Linked DNA regions of Homo sapiens. The protein of the gene in region 2 interacts with the protein of the main gene of each other region in a pairwise test. Each region holds a gene or a part of one and is shown on either strand. Other genes may lie near its edges.

The links. Proteins that work in one complex are often made in the same cells at the same time.
Region 1: the proteins of COL1A2 (region 2) and LOX interact in a two-hybrid assay, tested with the Homo sapiens proteins (one study listed by IntAct).

Annotation. Positions count from the first base shown.
Region 1 is NC_000005.10:122,075,260-122,083,159, forward strand, and holds the start of LOX (protein-lysine 6-oxidase isoform 1 preproprotein), read right to left. Parts: upstream 3,001-7,900; 5' UTR 2,727-3,000; coding exon 2,096-2,726; exon of another isoform or gene 1,743-2,095; coding exon 1,634-1,742; exon of another isoform or gene 283-1,633; coding exon 145-282; exon of another isoform or gene 67-144; coding exon of another isoform or gene 56-66; intron 1-55. UniProt on the Homo sapiens protein: Responsible for the post-translational oxidative deamination of peptidyl lysine residues in precursors to fibrous collagen and elastin. Regulator of Ras expression. May play a role in tumor suppression. Plays a role in the aortic wall architecture.
Region 2 is NC_000007.14:94,397,503-94,404,894, reverse strand, and holds part of COL1A2 (collagen alpha-2(I) chain precursor), read right to left. Parts: intron 7,148-7,392; coding exon 7,137-7,147; intron 6,514-7,136; coding exon 6,499-6,513; intron 5,847-6,498; coding exon 5,811-5,846; intron 4,700-5,810; coding exon 4,607-4,699; intron 3,329-4,606; coding exon 3,275-3,328; intron 340-3,274; coding exon 295-339; intron 203-294; coding exon 149-202; intron 57-148; coding exon 3-56; intron 1-2. UniProt on the Homo sapiens protein: Type I collagen is a member of group I collagen (fibrillar forming collagen).

The DNA.
Region 1 (7,900 bases), on a different chromosome or scaffold from region 2:
GAAATTACATAGAGAAAAATTCTAAATATAAGTAATAGCAATTTTCTCCCTTCAGGTAAGAAATAAGACTTGCATTTGTGATATCAAAAATCACCTGAGAAATGAAAAGCAACCCAAAAGTACCCAGGAGGCCCATTTACTTACTGATGACAACTGTGCCATTCCCAGGAATATCTTGGTCGGCTGGGTAAGAAATCTGATGTCCCTTGGTTTTTCACTCTTTGGGGAAATCTGAGCAGCACCCTGTGATCATAATCTCTGACATCTGCCCTGTATGCTGTACTGTGATTTTGAAAAAAGAAAAATTATTATATTCATGGAATATTAACTAAAGACAAAACTACAAATAAAACATCCATTATATAGTAGTGACAATCCTCCTTTCCCAACTAGACTATCAGTTCCAAGAGTCTAAGGCATTTTGTTTCTTTTTGTTCATTGCTGAATCCAAAGCTCCTAGAACCGTCTTGGAGTAGTCAGAGCTCAATGAATATTTGGTGAATAAGTGAATGAATAACACCTATGGAAATCCACAGATCTTAACAGTAAAAACATAATAAGCATTAAAAATCTAAATGTCAGAAGTAAACTTTAGAATCAATTCAAGTTTGATCATATGAATGAGTGAAACTGAAGTGGAAATAATCCCCCAATAAAAAAAATAATTCATAGATGTTTATTACAAACTTCAAACTTAACAAAACTTTTAAAAAAGTTAATGAGCTGCAAACTGAGGAAATAACTCTAAAAGAGCATACCCAGATTTAAATTAATAATTTTGTAACTTCACTATCCCAAAACAATGGCAGTACTGTAAAAACATCATAGGGAGTTCAATGGTGTGAGTGATGCAAGACTCAGGAATGAAAATGAGCTTGGATTTCTTCACTTCCTTTAGCCTGACAATTATAAAGGGTCAAAGTGGAAGAAATGTACAAATAAACATCACTGTGTTCCTACTAATATATTTAGTGTGTCTATATGTTCAGGTGGTATTGATGACCTTATTTTACACTTTAAATTTTTATTAAAACATCTTTTGCTCCCTCTGCTGTTTCCCAGCAGTAAACCCAGAGAACCCCAATCCCAGAGTTACTATTTTATTTTAGAATAGTGGAAAAACAAAGCTCTTGCTCACGGTCTTATTCTGGCTGAAGTAATACCAAAACAACCAAGTTCATCGTGGTCTCAAACAAAAGAGGAAAACTTAGTCTTTACCAATGAGGCTACGATGGCAAATTTGCCCCGAATCTTTTAAGGGGGTATTAACACACCCTTCCATTACAATAAATTTTTTGAATTACTGTATAGTTGTTTTATGAAAAGTGATTGGAACAATTGACTCCCAAGTTTAAGTATCTTGGAAAAAGAGCATGAGACTTTCAGTCTCCAGGATAAGGGTTTCCTCCACCTCTGTGATTCCTGCTGCACTTTGAGACAGAACCCACAGAAATCTTCAAAAATATTAACTCTCCGTCCAGGTCAGCATGCCCAGGAGGTCACGTCCCACTTCCCAGCTCTTGTCCCACTTCCTAACACTTGTCTGCGCGAAGCAGTAGCAGTCAGAACCAGGCACCAGAGCGCCCCCTGAAGGTAGACCGGGGAGCGGGGCCTCAGACATATCAGCCCGTACCTGGCCAGACAGTTTTCCTCCGCCGCGCATCTCAGGTTGTACATGGACATCTTCTGCACGTACGTGGACGCCTGGATGTAGTAGGGGTCGGCCACCAGGTCTGGGAGACCTAAACGTCAGCAGGCGACGGGCGCAGCAGTGAAACAACCCGGCGCCCCCCGCTCCAACTCCCTACCCCTCTAGGTCCCTTACTCCTCACCCTTCGCCCACCGGGACTGCAGAGTGGAGCGGAGGACAGCAAGAGAACTGGGGACGCCCGGGACTGCAAAGCAATGTGAAAAGGAAGCAGGAGGGGCCAGACGCGCGGTTTGCACTGGATTCCAGGGCTGCCACTGCAGGCGCGTGGGGGAGGGATCGGATCTGCGAGGACCGGGGCCCGCCGCGCCCAGGCAGCCACGTCGAGAAGCCACATAGCTGGGGACCAGGTGCACGGGTGCTTCCAGCGGACTTGGGGGTACTTACCGTACTGGAAGTAGCCAGTGCCGTATCCGGGCCGGTACCTGCCCCCAGGTCTGGGCCTTTCATAAGTATCGTAGTAGTTGTAATAAGGGTTGTCGTCAGAGTACTTGTAGGGGTTGTAAGGGTCGTCGCCCACCATGCCGTCCACGCGGCTGGGCGGCCGCAGGTTACTGAGCGCAGGAACTTCTCCCGGCGCTGTCTGGTTCTCCGCGCGCGAGGCGCCAGCTTCGCGGGCTCTAGATGTCGAGTAGCCAGCTTGGAACCAGTGACGGGCGGTGGGCCTGGGGCGGCCAGCGGTGACTCCAGATGAGCCGGCCGTCCGCGTTCGCGCCGCGGCGGTGCGGTTGTCGCGGATCAGCAGGATCGGAGTGCGGGGCTGCTGGGCGGAGGCGTTGGCTGCACCAGGGACGGCGGCGCCCGGGTCCCGGCGGCGCTGAGGCTGGTACTGTGAGCCCAGGCTCAGCAAGCTGAACACCTGCCCGTTGTTCTCCCATTGGATCTGCTGGCGCCAGGCGCCCGGAGCCGCCGGCGGCTCGCGCGGGGGCTGCTGTTGGCCGGCGGCGGGAGGGGCGCAGTGCACTAGCGCGCAGAGCTGCAAAGGCCCGAGCAGGAGCACGGTCCAGGCGAAGCGCATCACTCCTTTTGCCAGATTGACCCCGCTCGAGGAGGACGTGGCTCACAGAAAATAAAAACGGGGCTCAAATCACGTGAGGGAAGGAGAAATCTTCAACCAAGGAGGCGAGCGGAGCACGGGTATCTCAGTCTCCACCAAGCAATGCCAAGGGTGGGATTCAGACCCTTCCCCAGTCAAGGCGGCTGCTCGGACGTGGCACCCTTCCCTTTCCCCTTTCTCAGTCCTGGAAGGCAACGGGGAGCGGCGCGGCAGTCCCGGAGAGCGGGCAGTGTCTGGAGTGAAGGAAGGAGGAGAGATTTTAAACTTTCTGGCACGTTTGCAAAGTTACACAAGCCGTTCTGGCCCGGCCGCCCCTCAGCTATTTGTTCACGTAATGCGATTGGAAACGTGCAAGGCGGACAGCTCCTCGCCTCTGCCCCTCCCTCTCTCCCGTCCCTGCCCTCCTCCCCCCAGACACGTTGCACAGGGAGCGTTAAGGGGAAAGAACAAAACGGAACACACATCCTGAGACACACTGGCTTAATCTGGGGCGAACATGCAGGAATTTCAAAAAACTCAGACAGGCGAAGGCAGCCAGGCCATGGGGCGACGCCAAAATATGCACGAAGAAAAATGCTATTAGGTCACCAGCCCTTGAGAGGCGGGAAGTCGGGAGGTTGGGAGGGTGCTGGGGGTGAGAGGGGGGCGGGGGAGGATTGTGACTAAAGTTTATCCATAAAAGAGTTAACCAGACACATTTCCCAACGCACACTCTCTCGCTTTTATGGGAAGCGCCCTCAGCAAATAAACCCCAGGATATCAAATTTTGTTTTTCTGTGTGTAGGTAATATGAGAAATGGGTTACAAATTTATTTCCTACAGTGAATATTTTAATAACCAAAAGTGAAATTGTACAGGGAACAAAGCCAGCTAACGCTGCAGCTATGAATAAACCTGTCTCTTTTTCAAAATGCCGGCCTGATTTGTACTTTGAGTAGAAGTGGAGAACCATCTTTCATCTCCACAGTGTCTACAAGGAAGATTCATTAAAGACTAGAACAAGTCTGCATGAGAAAGCACTCAGAAGGCATCTTCACATATGCATTTTATAAGACATTTTTCTCCTTCATCTTATAAAGAAGTTTGACTTTGGATTTAAAAAAAAATTAAATCACCTCTGTTAAATACTGAAAGTCAGTAAAACATCGCATGCTGTTTAATTTATCTTCCAATCTAAACAAAGAAGTTGCTGAAGAAACAGCCTTAGAGTTTAGATTTTGGTAAAGAGAAGGAAGTAGGAGTGGTCAGAAAAGAATATAGGTGGGGGATAAATTATGCTGACTGGAAAGAGATACATAATGGACGAGTTATTCATATACCACTCAGGGTTTGGGCAGTGCTAGAAACTTTGCAACAAAAAATGGTTACTAAATGGTCTGATTTAACACTACTACTCAAAACCAGATTTTGGTAACCATTTTATTGGTCTCATCATTGGGCTATTGTCCAGACATACTTCAATATTCACATACCTCTGTTAGTCTCTGTCTCTCCATATTTAATCACCACATTTTGGTGGTGTGGTGGACCTCTGCTGATTTTGACTGCCTCACATCCATTTTCCTTTTCTTTCTAGTAAGAACAACCGGATTTTCCTTTGAGGGGCTTCCCACCCACCCCACTCAGTTGCATAGTGGAAGGACTGAGCATTTATGAGACTTACCCACTTCAAGAAGTGGTCATGAGATCCAGGTTTGGCCAATCAAGCCATCTCTCTAGATGGTTTAATTTTATCTGGGATCTGAATCTTGAGCAGAAGGACACTGTCAAAAATGTTGCTCCTCAAACTACTAAAGAAAGTGCCCAGGCCTGGCGCAGTGGCTCACACCTGTAATCCTAGCACTTTGGGAGGCCAAGGCGGGCGGATCATTATCATTCGAGGTCAGGAGTTCGAGACCAGCCTGGCCAACATGGCAAAACCCCATCTCTACTAAAAATACAAACAAACAAACAAACAAACAAAAAATTAGCTGGGCATGGTGGCACATGTCTGTAATCCCAAACTACTCTGGAGGCTGAGGCTGGAGAATTGCTTGAGCCCGGAGAATTCCTTAAGCCCAGGAGGCAGAGGTTACAGTGAGCGGAGATCCACCACTGCACTCCAACTTGGGCAACAGAGTGAGACTCCATCTAAAAAACAAACAAACAAATGAAAAAGTGCCCATTATGTCTTGCTACATGGATCCGTCCCCTGCCCCGTCACCCAAGCTACTTTAGGTGAGTACATTCTAAGACCTGGTTCTTCAGCATTTCCTTCTTTCTTTCTTACTCCCCGACCCACCCCCCCATCCCCCCCATACATTCCTTTGTGACTGAACATGGTCAGAGTCAATTTCTGTTGTTTTCCACCTAAGAAGGCTGACTGACACTGAGCAGGGTGTGGCTGCTTCTGTCACCTAATCAGTTCACATTATTCTCAGTTCAGGGTGATGGGTTTGGTTCAGTTTGAGTCAAGTTAGATTTCCCCTGCCCATGACTGCACAGCATCCTTGGTCACAGGGAAATATCACATGGAAGCTCGCCAATGTGTTGGCAAATCTATTACTTACATGATAATTTGCACTTGAAGATGAACATTCAAATGCAATTCCCACTGATGGCAAGTCAACAGTGACATCTCACTCTCCCTATAAGGGTCAGAGACATCCCTAGCTGTCATTTTACAGACTTGCTGCAGTGCTTAAAATTAAACTACTCAACTCCTCCAAACCCACTAAGAAAGATGGAGTGAAAAAGAAGAAACAGGTGTATAGATTATAATTTCAATGGACAGGCCAAATTACAGGAGAAGCAGGAAACGAAAGAATGTAATTATCCCTCATCTGAAAAAGGCTCTGCATGTGCCCATGAACAGCTTATTCCCTAGACTAGAGAAGTCTGAAACTGCTATTACTTGACCACAGGTTCCTGAGGGAAGACCTCTGCTATGCCAGACATAGTGTCAGAATGGCAGACCAAAGCAGCACCCCTAATGGGAGGGTAGAAAGTTTACACTGGATCCCAGATAAAATGCCCTGTTTCCAATCCTAGTGCTCCAATAAAAAAAAAAAAAGCTGTGTCTCTTTGGACAGTTTGTTTACTATCTCTGGCTTTTGTTATATTTAGGATTCAAGGATTAACCAAATTCTTTCTAAAGTATTTTTCCTAGTTTTAAAATCTCTGATTTTTGTGAATATTCAAGTTATTCCAATTACTTTCGATTCATTGATAATAATGTGTTCATTATGATTATTAATATTTAATCAAATTTTTTTAGTTGGAGTTTAAAACATTGGATGCATTTTGTGTGAGTTAGAATCTGCAGACTGCAATTTTCTTATTCTACATATTTTCCAATAGTGAAAGTCAATACATATTTATTTGTTTTACAAACATTTCTTGAACACATATATATGTTCCGAAGTGTAGTATACCATAATGGTGACTTGCACACGTGAGCACTAAAAGTTTAGAGCTGAATGAAGTTGATCCTTTTTTCCAGATTTGCTCCAACAGACTTTAAAATTCTTATCAGAGTATAAATAACTGACTAGAGCAGTAATGATGTGCAATATTTATTTTCTTAAAACATGTACACACTACCAAAAGAGAAAAACACACTACCCTTTGTCACACATGCTAATGAAAAGCTTAGTTGATTTTCACTCTCCTTCATTTCCTCTAAAATCTCTCTGGCTTAGGACTCTGTCAGCTGAAAAACAAACATGTGGCTACCACATTTGGGGACAATACAGTGTTTGCAAGCCCTGCGGGAGATAATCTAGCCACACATTGTGTTCCCTGTTCAATAACAAAACTATTATTCACAAAATTGGAGAAACCATAGTTCCTTTCCACTCAAATCTGAGATGATAATGATGATGACAATAATAATAATAAGCCACGGCTACATCAAGATACAAACAGCTTTTTTTGCTTTGATAAGATCCACAGCTGATTTCACTTTTGACCATGAGATTTTCTTCTCGTGAACAATTCTGCAGTATGTGCCATAAGAGAAGGGAAGGAATGTTGCTAATTCTTTTTTTGAGTTTCTAGCCCATCAATATCAAATCTTTAAATGGCAATGTCTGGCCCATTGGCCAAGAAATGAAAGTTGTTGTAATGCTATGTTCCTGGTATTTGTTAAATACATTTATTTTTGTAGGACATTTCACATAAATGGAAAACAGAAAGCCGAAACCATAAAGCAGGGCCTCTGAATTGCAGAAGCCAGAACAGTAATGCCACATTCAAAGCAATCAGGTTCAAGTGTAAATTCTTTTGTTTGAGGCTCAAGAAGCTCATACAAAGCTTGTTTTTTGGTAAAGAGTAATGGTTGTATGTGCTTTGGTTCCATGTGGTTTGAAAACAAAACAGCACAGAGAATAAAATTTAAAAAGTGGAAAGTTGGAGATGTGTAAGGGGAAAATGATTGAGAAAACAGAATACCATATAACACAAAGGAGAATACACTCTGAGTGTTGAATTAGGACATTGAGGATACTTAAAAAGTAATTAAGAAATGTAACAGAGTGAAATACAGAACTAGAAATCTTTTTACTTGGAGTGAAATGGAGGAGAGGAGTAAGTTAGCCTTAAAGTTAACAGTGTGCTTGTGTTCCCTTCTACTACTTATCCTAGCCTTCTGCCACATACCACTTCCAGGTATTCACCCAAATATAAAAAGTAGACAGTTGGGTACACACTTGTCTGTGTGTCAAGACCAAACTGAAAAAAAAAAAGTATAAACAAACTGAGTAGAAGAATTCCAGAAATAATAACTTTTAAATGTATCTGGCTTGGTTACCCATTCCTTTGGGCCACCTAAGGAATGGAAAAGTGGAGTTTAACTCTAAGGAATAGAAAAGTATTTCATTCTGGTGTCCTTAATGCATGTTCACGTGTGATGAAGTAAAGAATGTTAGTTACTGAAACAAAATGGGAAAATGAGAAGAGGTGATATGATAGGAGAATGGGTCTTTGAAGTACAGGGGATCAGAGTTCAAAGTAATTAGTTCTATTAACAATAAAAATAAGGGTTCACCGGGAGGCGAAGCTTGCAGTGAGCCGAGATTGCGCCACTGCACTCCAGCCTGGGTGACAGAGCCAGACTCCGTCTCAAAAAAAAAAAAAAAAAAAAAAAAAAGGGTTCA
Region 2 (7,392 bases):
ACATCTTCACCAGCCTTGCCAGGAGGGCCAGCTGGACCACGAGCACCTGCAGGACCCTAAGAAAATGGGAGACCCATCATTTCACTAAGGTTATATTCATAAACTTCCTGGAAAAAAACTTATCACAAAGGTGGAAAAATGTACTCACAGTTTGACCAGGTTCACCAGGCTCACCAGCAGGTCCTTGGAAACCTTGAGGGCCCTAAAAGAAAAAAAGAATGTCATACTCCAAGCCTTTATTTCTTAATTCTCTGTCTTTTTACATAAGAGGCATTACAAGCTTTCAGTACTTACTGGGGCTCCAGCTGCACCAGGTGGGCCTCTAGGTCCCATTAAGCCCTGTAAAGAAAGCAGATATATCAACAGTTAGCACTGATAAGTTGTCATGGTGTTGGCTGGGGTCAGATATGACCAACTTAGCAGTGCCATTGTTGTGGTTTGATTCCATAGTTTTTATTCCTCCCAAGGAAGAATTTAAGGACTCAAACTTCCTGCACTAGTTCTCTCCCTTTGCTTTTCCTTTTCTCCCAATCCTTATCAACAGAAATCAATGAGAATTAGACGGGGCAGATAGGTTCCTTAAAGTTGTGCACAATTGGGCATATTGAGATTGTTCTGATGCAATGAAGTGAATCAGTCTTTGCAGAAGTGCAGAATATACAATTGTCTTCTATACAGCAGATGAAGCATGTCCATTTGGATATCTTTGATCATATGTCATCTTCCTATGTCATATTTAGCTAAGAAATTGGTATTTTTATTGCCACAAAGGACATAAATTGAAAAGAATCAAAAGTCCTTCTTAATGATTAGAGAGAAGTTTGTTATAACCTTATCGCTCCTCTAAGGGTTATTGGTGACTGATGAAAATGTCAAACAAAAGTGGATGTAATGAGGGGTGAAGGAAAAATAAAACATTATTGAAACAGCCTTCTGGAAGAGTCTATTATATGATATTATTGTTGAAAATATGGCCCAAATGATGGAAGATTGTTTTCCCCTTTGTTGTTTCCATAGCACAAAAGTAGGGTAAAACAGGCTGTTAATAGTTTGTAAGCTAAATACACTTTCTTGACTCCTCTTTGCAGTAATCAGTGCCTGTGTAAGCTCATCCGTAGGGTCTGTTCCTCATAATGCTGAAAATATTTCATGTACCAGTCTCAAGTAATTTGTTCATGACATCAGCTGTGGGGACTCTGCAGTCAAACCTACCTTACTGTATTAATGCCTAGAGTGAAATAACATGGATTTTATCTAAAATGTATGTCATTTTAATTATAAGAATTATTCATTTGGTTTTAGAAATTGCTCTGACATTAAAAGAAACTGTCACTTTTCCATCACAATAGCTTTTTAGGCATACATTAAAAAATAATTTTCTTTGACATCATGAATTTCTAATTATATTTATTTTTTCATGTATTTGCAACAATTTCATTTACATAAAATGTAGTGTATTTCATGGAGGCTGTGATTACTCATTAATTCAGAGAAGAACCCTGTGGGGTTTTATAGTTATTGATTTTCCAACATGGAAATTATTTTAATACTTTATTGCTGCCTATCTTCCCTATTTGTGAAACAGATATCTGTTGATTACATATGTCTGTGCATGTGTGTGGATGTGCAAGCTTAAATTATATTTCACTGATATTTCAAAGTAAAATACTCTGCTTTATGCCAAGACAGATGTTCCGAAAACAGGGGTATCTGAAATCCATATTAATTTTCCCAGCTTAGTGGGCTTTTTAAAAATGACATTTAGTAGCTCTTTACTTTCCGCCCCCTTGCTTCTTCTTGAGATGTAGGTACTGCTTTAAAACTGACTAATGTCCAGCATTAGCTGAAACAGCTAATTTCAAAAATCCAATATAAACAAAGCCAAAAGAAACACTCTACTTTTTCATTTCAGATATGAACATTTTAAACTACCAGAAAAAATTAGGGAATTAGAAGTCGTCAATTAAAGGTACATTATTTCTCAAGTGGGAGTTTTAATTTACAGAAAATATTATCTCACCCTTAGAGTATATTAGCTTACTGTGGGCCATTAGCTCCAGCAGAACATCTTCTTTTGAAGATAGAGCACTAAGTGCACTGCCCAGGTAAAATTTACATTTTAAAGACCTTGTTGACTTTGGGCAGATAAATACCTTTGTTTTGAAACAATTAATTAAAATCACTAAATTGCGTGTGTGTGTATACATTAAATTCTGTAGTGCTTAATCAACCTAACACTTTGACTTCTGGCAGTTTTCCCCTCTATTTCATATATGCTAGTATACATTTTGCATGCTCGTATTAGCATTTTTCCCTTCAAACTTCTCTCTAATGCTTGTTAGAAGCTTCATTTGTTAATAGTCATCATCATCATCATCATCATATAGGGAATGTTTCTAAGCGGTGCTCCACTGATAGGGTATGGTGCTGAATATTTGTACTGAGTGACATAAATGCTAGATTTTTACTCATACTCTCTTCTATATAGATTTACAATCAATAGACTAAAAAAGGATTTTTTTGGTCAAAATTCAGAAAAAGAAACATTTCCTATATTGTTAACTCCTTGAGGAAGGATCAGAATCTGTCATATTCCTTGTAATTTCCCCAGTTCCTAATACAGTTTAGGGCCCATTGAAGGCATCTGATTAATATCTGTTGACTAAATGAGTGGTTTATTCAAGGACTAGGTACATAAACCATGATGTAAGCAAATATTAGACATCTTGCCTGGCATCTAGTTCTAGTTATGTCATTAGTTACCTGGATGACTTTGAGAAAAGGGCTTAAACTCTCCCATTTTAAAATGAGTTAGCTGGACTAGATAGAACTTGTTGATCCTTTCCAACAAGTTCAGAGAACTTAATAAATAGTTCTATGCCTCTAAGTGTTGCTTAAAATTCTAAGCAATGTTAAAGAATATTAAAAAATTAATCAGAGTGATTACTGTTTTAAATTAAATTGATTTGCCCAAGTTATGGTTACTATGTCCAAAGATTATTTCTTGGACATAAGTATATGATCTATCTTAATGAGGATCATATAATCAAAAAGATCATATAATCATAAAAGATCAATTAATCTTTCTTTTGTAAAGAAAAGTGAACTCCTTAACTTATGTTTTCATAAATTTGAAAACAAAAAGAGTTGTTTTTATATAATCTAAGTATTGAGTGTTAACTTAGGTAGCTAAATAAATGGCGTGGTAAAATGTGACATAAAATGAATGATTTATTTAGCAATTTTTTTGGCTAAGATAAACAGATAAGCATACCATTGGTCCAGGGCCAAGTCCAACTCCTTTTCCATCATACTGAGCAGCAAAGTTCTAGAGAAGTAAAAAAAAAAAATTATATATATATATAAAATATTTTTAGTTACTAGTCATGTAGTTCATTTTCTCATTCTACTTGTAAATATTTTTCTGTTGTTATTTAAAAGAGGGCAATGTTTTTGATATAATTATTAGTTTAAAATTCTATATTGAACTAAATTCCTAAAAAGTTATGAGAGCTGTACGTCAAAAACTTGGCCGACACCTCTTTGAAATGGAGAACTTCCCTACTTTACTTTTTGAGCCCTTCCTCTGCCTTAACTCGGTGTCTCCACTCCCACCTTTTACCTCTACTCTGAGGAAGGGAAGCTTTCTAAACTTTTAATGTTACTAAGGGCTCCTGACAAATTAGACAGAGCTCAAGAGGACATCTTCACATTTTCACCTGTTGCCCTTCCCCACCGGAGCTACACAAAATGACTAAGAGATCTTTTTCTTGCTGGAGTTTCAGGAAGGGCATAAAGAGTTTTCAAGTTTAGAGGAAAATTAAATTAAAATACCCCTTGGAAGATAAAACTTCTAAAAACTAGTTCACAGTAATAACTTTACTGTTAAAGATCTCTCTTATAGTGGTAGCTCTATTAAAGAAGCTGCTTTTTAATGCAATTCATAGATAAGCAATCATAATAAGATCTTTGGGGGAGAAAGGTCTTATTTTACTGACATACAGTTGGGTATTAGAATCAGGCTTCTGATTCATAGTGCTAACCAATTAAGCAAATATGTTTTCCTTCCTGCAGTGAGGTCATTTGGCACTCATACCATTGTTAAAGACATGAAGCTAAAAGAAGATATTAATGAAAAAGGGAAATGTACTTTTCTCAAATTAGTTTCAAGCAAATTAAACCTAAAACCGCTTTGAATGTTGGTTCAGCAGACTTCAAGTCAAGGAGAATAAAAAGCGTAGGATGTTTGTAAAATTGCTTAAGATCAGGGATTTCACTTACACAGTTCAATCTAATCAAAATCCTTAATAATGCAACACCTCTTATTTGTGCCTTACTAATAAAAGATATTAAATCTCCAAATTAAATAATGGTAATGATGGCCACAGCTAACTTCAGTGCACACAAAGACCAGTCCTGTAATTGACAAGGGCTCACAAAGAGAATGGGTAAAGCAGAATCTTGAGTGAAAAAACCAAATAAATGAAATAAAATATACTAATTTTCAAATGGAAGAATTATCCCTTAACTGCTAAAAATAAATTCCACAATAAACCTTCTTTCAACTGAAGTTAGCTAAAAGTTAGCAATACGTAAGACACCTTACCCCACCGAGACCAGGGGGGCCAGGAGGACCAGGTGGACCAGGAGGGCCTGTGGGACCATCTTCACCATCTCTGCCTGGGGGGCCTGGTGGACCCTGTTATGTAAAAAGTGAGTAAGGTCAGGTTAGACAGGCCCTGTAGAAACCTAAGAATTATATGTGGTAAGATCAGTTGTTCAGACCTTTCTATGTGCAAGTAGGGTGGAAATTTAATATACTATATTTGTCATTGATTGAAATTCACTTATGAGTCTATTTTAGAAAGAGGGTTAATAACTCTTAAGATATCACAGGGTAGTTTTCCTAAAGAACTATCTCGGCCATTGAATATTAATTCATACTGAAGCTCCAGTATTCAAATATAAAAATTATAGCCAAAATGTATGGTTCCACGTGCTTCATATGTTTAACAGTGCACAAGGACTTACATCGTATTTTTATTGCCGATCTCTGACTGTGACAAACTGATTCAATTGTTTTGGTATGTTACATGTGAATGAATTAACTGATGTGACAGTTAATAAGGTCACTTTATCATAGGAGAGAAAATCCTGCAGATTTACTATCATTAACTACTTGTATTGTTAAAATAATTAACTGATTTAATTCTATTTCTAATAAATTGAGTGAAATACATGTAAGTCTCCTCTTCCTAATAGATATAAGATATAGGTATTCATATATTGGCAAAAGTGTTATACAATGCAAAACCACATAGTTATAAATGTCAAATAAGCATAGCAGGGAGATTTAAGAATGCCACAAATAAAATGTAAGCCTGACTTGTACATGCATGAATTTGAGCAGAGAAACATGTTACTGACTACTAATTCACTATTATTTCCAAGCTACCTAAGGGATCTTAGTTCAAAAGCAAATGAAATGTGTTAAAAAGAGGACTGTGGTGGTAGGTAGATATATTTCCATTATGCATGTGTTGGATGGGTCAATTACAAATAAAGAAAGTAGACCATGCAAAGAATATGACTGTAACAGTTTTTCTTTTTTAACGGTAATTTTGACCTAAAACAAATATTGATCATATATAATAATGCTCATTCGCTTCTTCTGCAGTGCATTACCTGTTTAAAGGGGTGTACAATTATCTGGATACATAATATTCTTATAAATTGCCAGTTCCTGTAGTTTCTAACATATAGTTATTCAAATACGGGACGAAGCCCTTTATAGTTCAAAAATTACACACCCTTTCTCCACGTGGTCCTCTATCTCCGGCTGGGCCCTACAGGAAAGATACAAACAGGACAATAATAAATGCCTAAGAAGTAATTTCCAGTGAACAAACAAATCATTCTTGATAATAATTAGTTGGTAAGACTGATGTAACTACAATGTTATTAGATAGCATATAAAAAATTGACACAATGCAATAGATAAAAGTATATATTTTAATTGTAATTATACGTAATTTTTTTTCAGCTGGAGGATTGGAAGCTGCTATAGTCTTCAGCTATTAGGTCAATACTATGCATAGCATTTTGAATAAGATGATAACTGTAGATTAAATGATCATTTTGTTACATTTTTAACAGCACATTTATATAGTCAAAGCCCTTTAAAATAAACTTTTTTTACTCCCTATAATTAACATAATATGCCTTCCATCTCCAGAATAAAAACAAGTCTTTTTTTTTCCTTTTGTATGTAAATCACCAGTTTGTATCACATAAATGTAATTACAGATGATTCCAGAAGATAATTAAACTTTGTTATCTTAAACATCAAAGCTACTTTATTTTATGCTTTAGCTAATGTATATTCATATGAACAAAATTTTGATAAAGTATTTTCCTTCTATAGTCTACTATAAATTTAGTTAAATTATGTTATCCCTGATAATTTTAGATATTTATGGAGAAGTAGTGTACTCTTACCTTTCTTACAGTTTCCTAGAAAAGAATAAATCAAAGATTATTATGAAGAAAATTGTATATATATATTTAAAAACAGCTTCCATTTTGGTGTAGTATACAAATATACCTTCACAATTCATTACATTATGCATTTACTATTATCTCAGTTTAATATTTCAAACTACAATTTAAAATTTTACCAACATGTCAAATAAAAATATGTACCTACAGAACAAAAAATACATAGCAATACGTACCTGTACTTATGCCTCAAATTCAACTCATGAGCTAAGAATGTGTTAACAATAAGTGCTTTTGCAAATAATTCCAAAGGAGTGAAAAGATTCTCTAGCTCAGTGAAATCTTCTGCTTCATAGAAGCTGATCCTAAAACTCAAACTTCTATTGGATTATTTACTCTATATTTCTTATGAATATTTTATAAACCTAGTCTTATTCAGTAGCCCCGCCTATTTTGGAAAATTGGGTGGGTACTTTCTAAGGCAGCCAGAAAGGTTTTGACTATCATAATTCTTCACAATTTTCTTGGGAATCTAGGATGGTCAATATTAATGTAACTTCTTCCCTTCCAAGAGAAGACATCACTGTAGCCAAGGGAATCAAAGTATTTTTAAAAATTCTAAAAAAAGTTTTACTCACCTCTTGTAAAGCTGTAGAAAAAAAAAAGAAAAAGTAGGAAACAATTATTAGTATCACTTCATGGATCAATAGCAATAATTAACAAATAGAGAAACAAGTTTATAGAATTGAATTACCTAATTAAGGACCAATTATATTTTTTTAAGAATATTTTAATGACCTAGAAATTATGCAGGTCAAAAGTATGGCAGGGATCAGCAGGGTGATTTGTTTGCAATATTAATATGTAAATGTATTTTGAATTAAATTATTAATT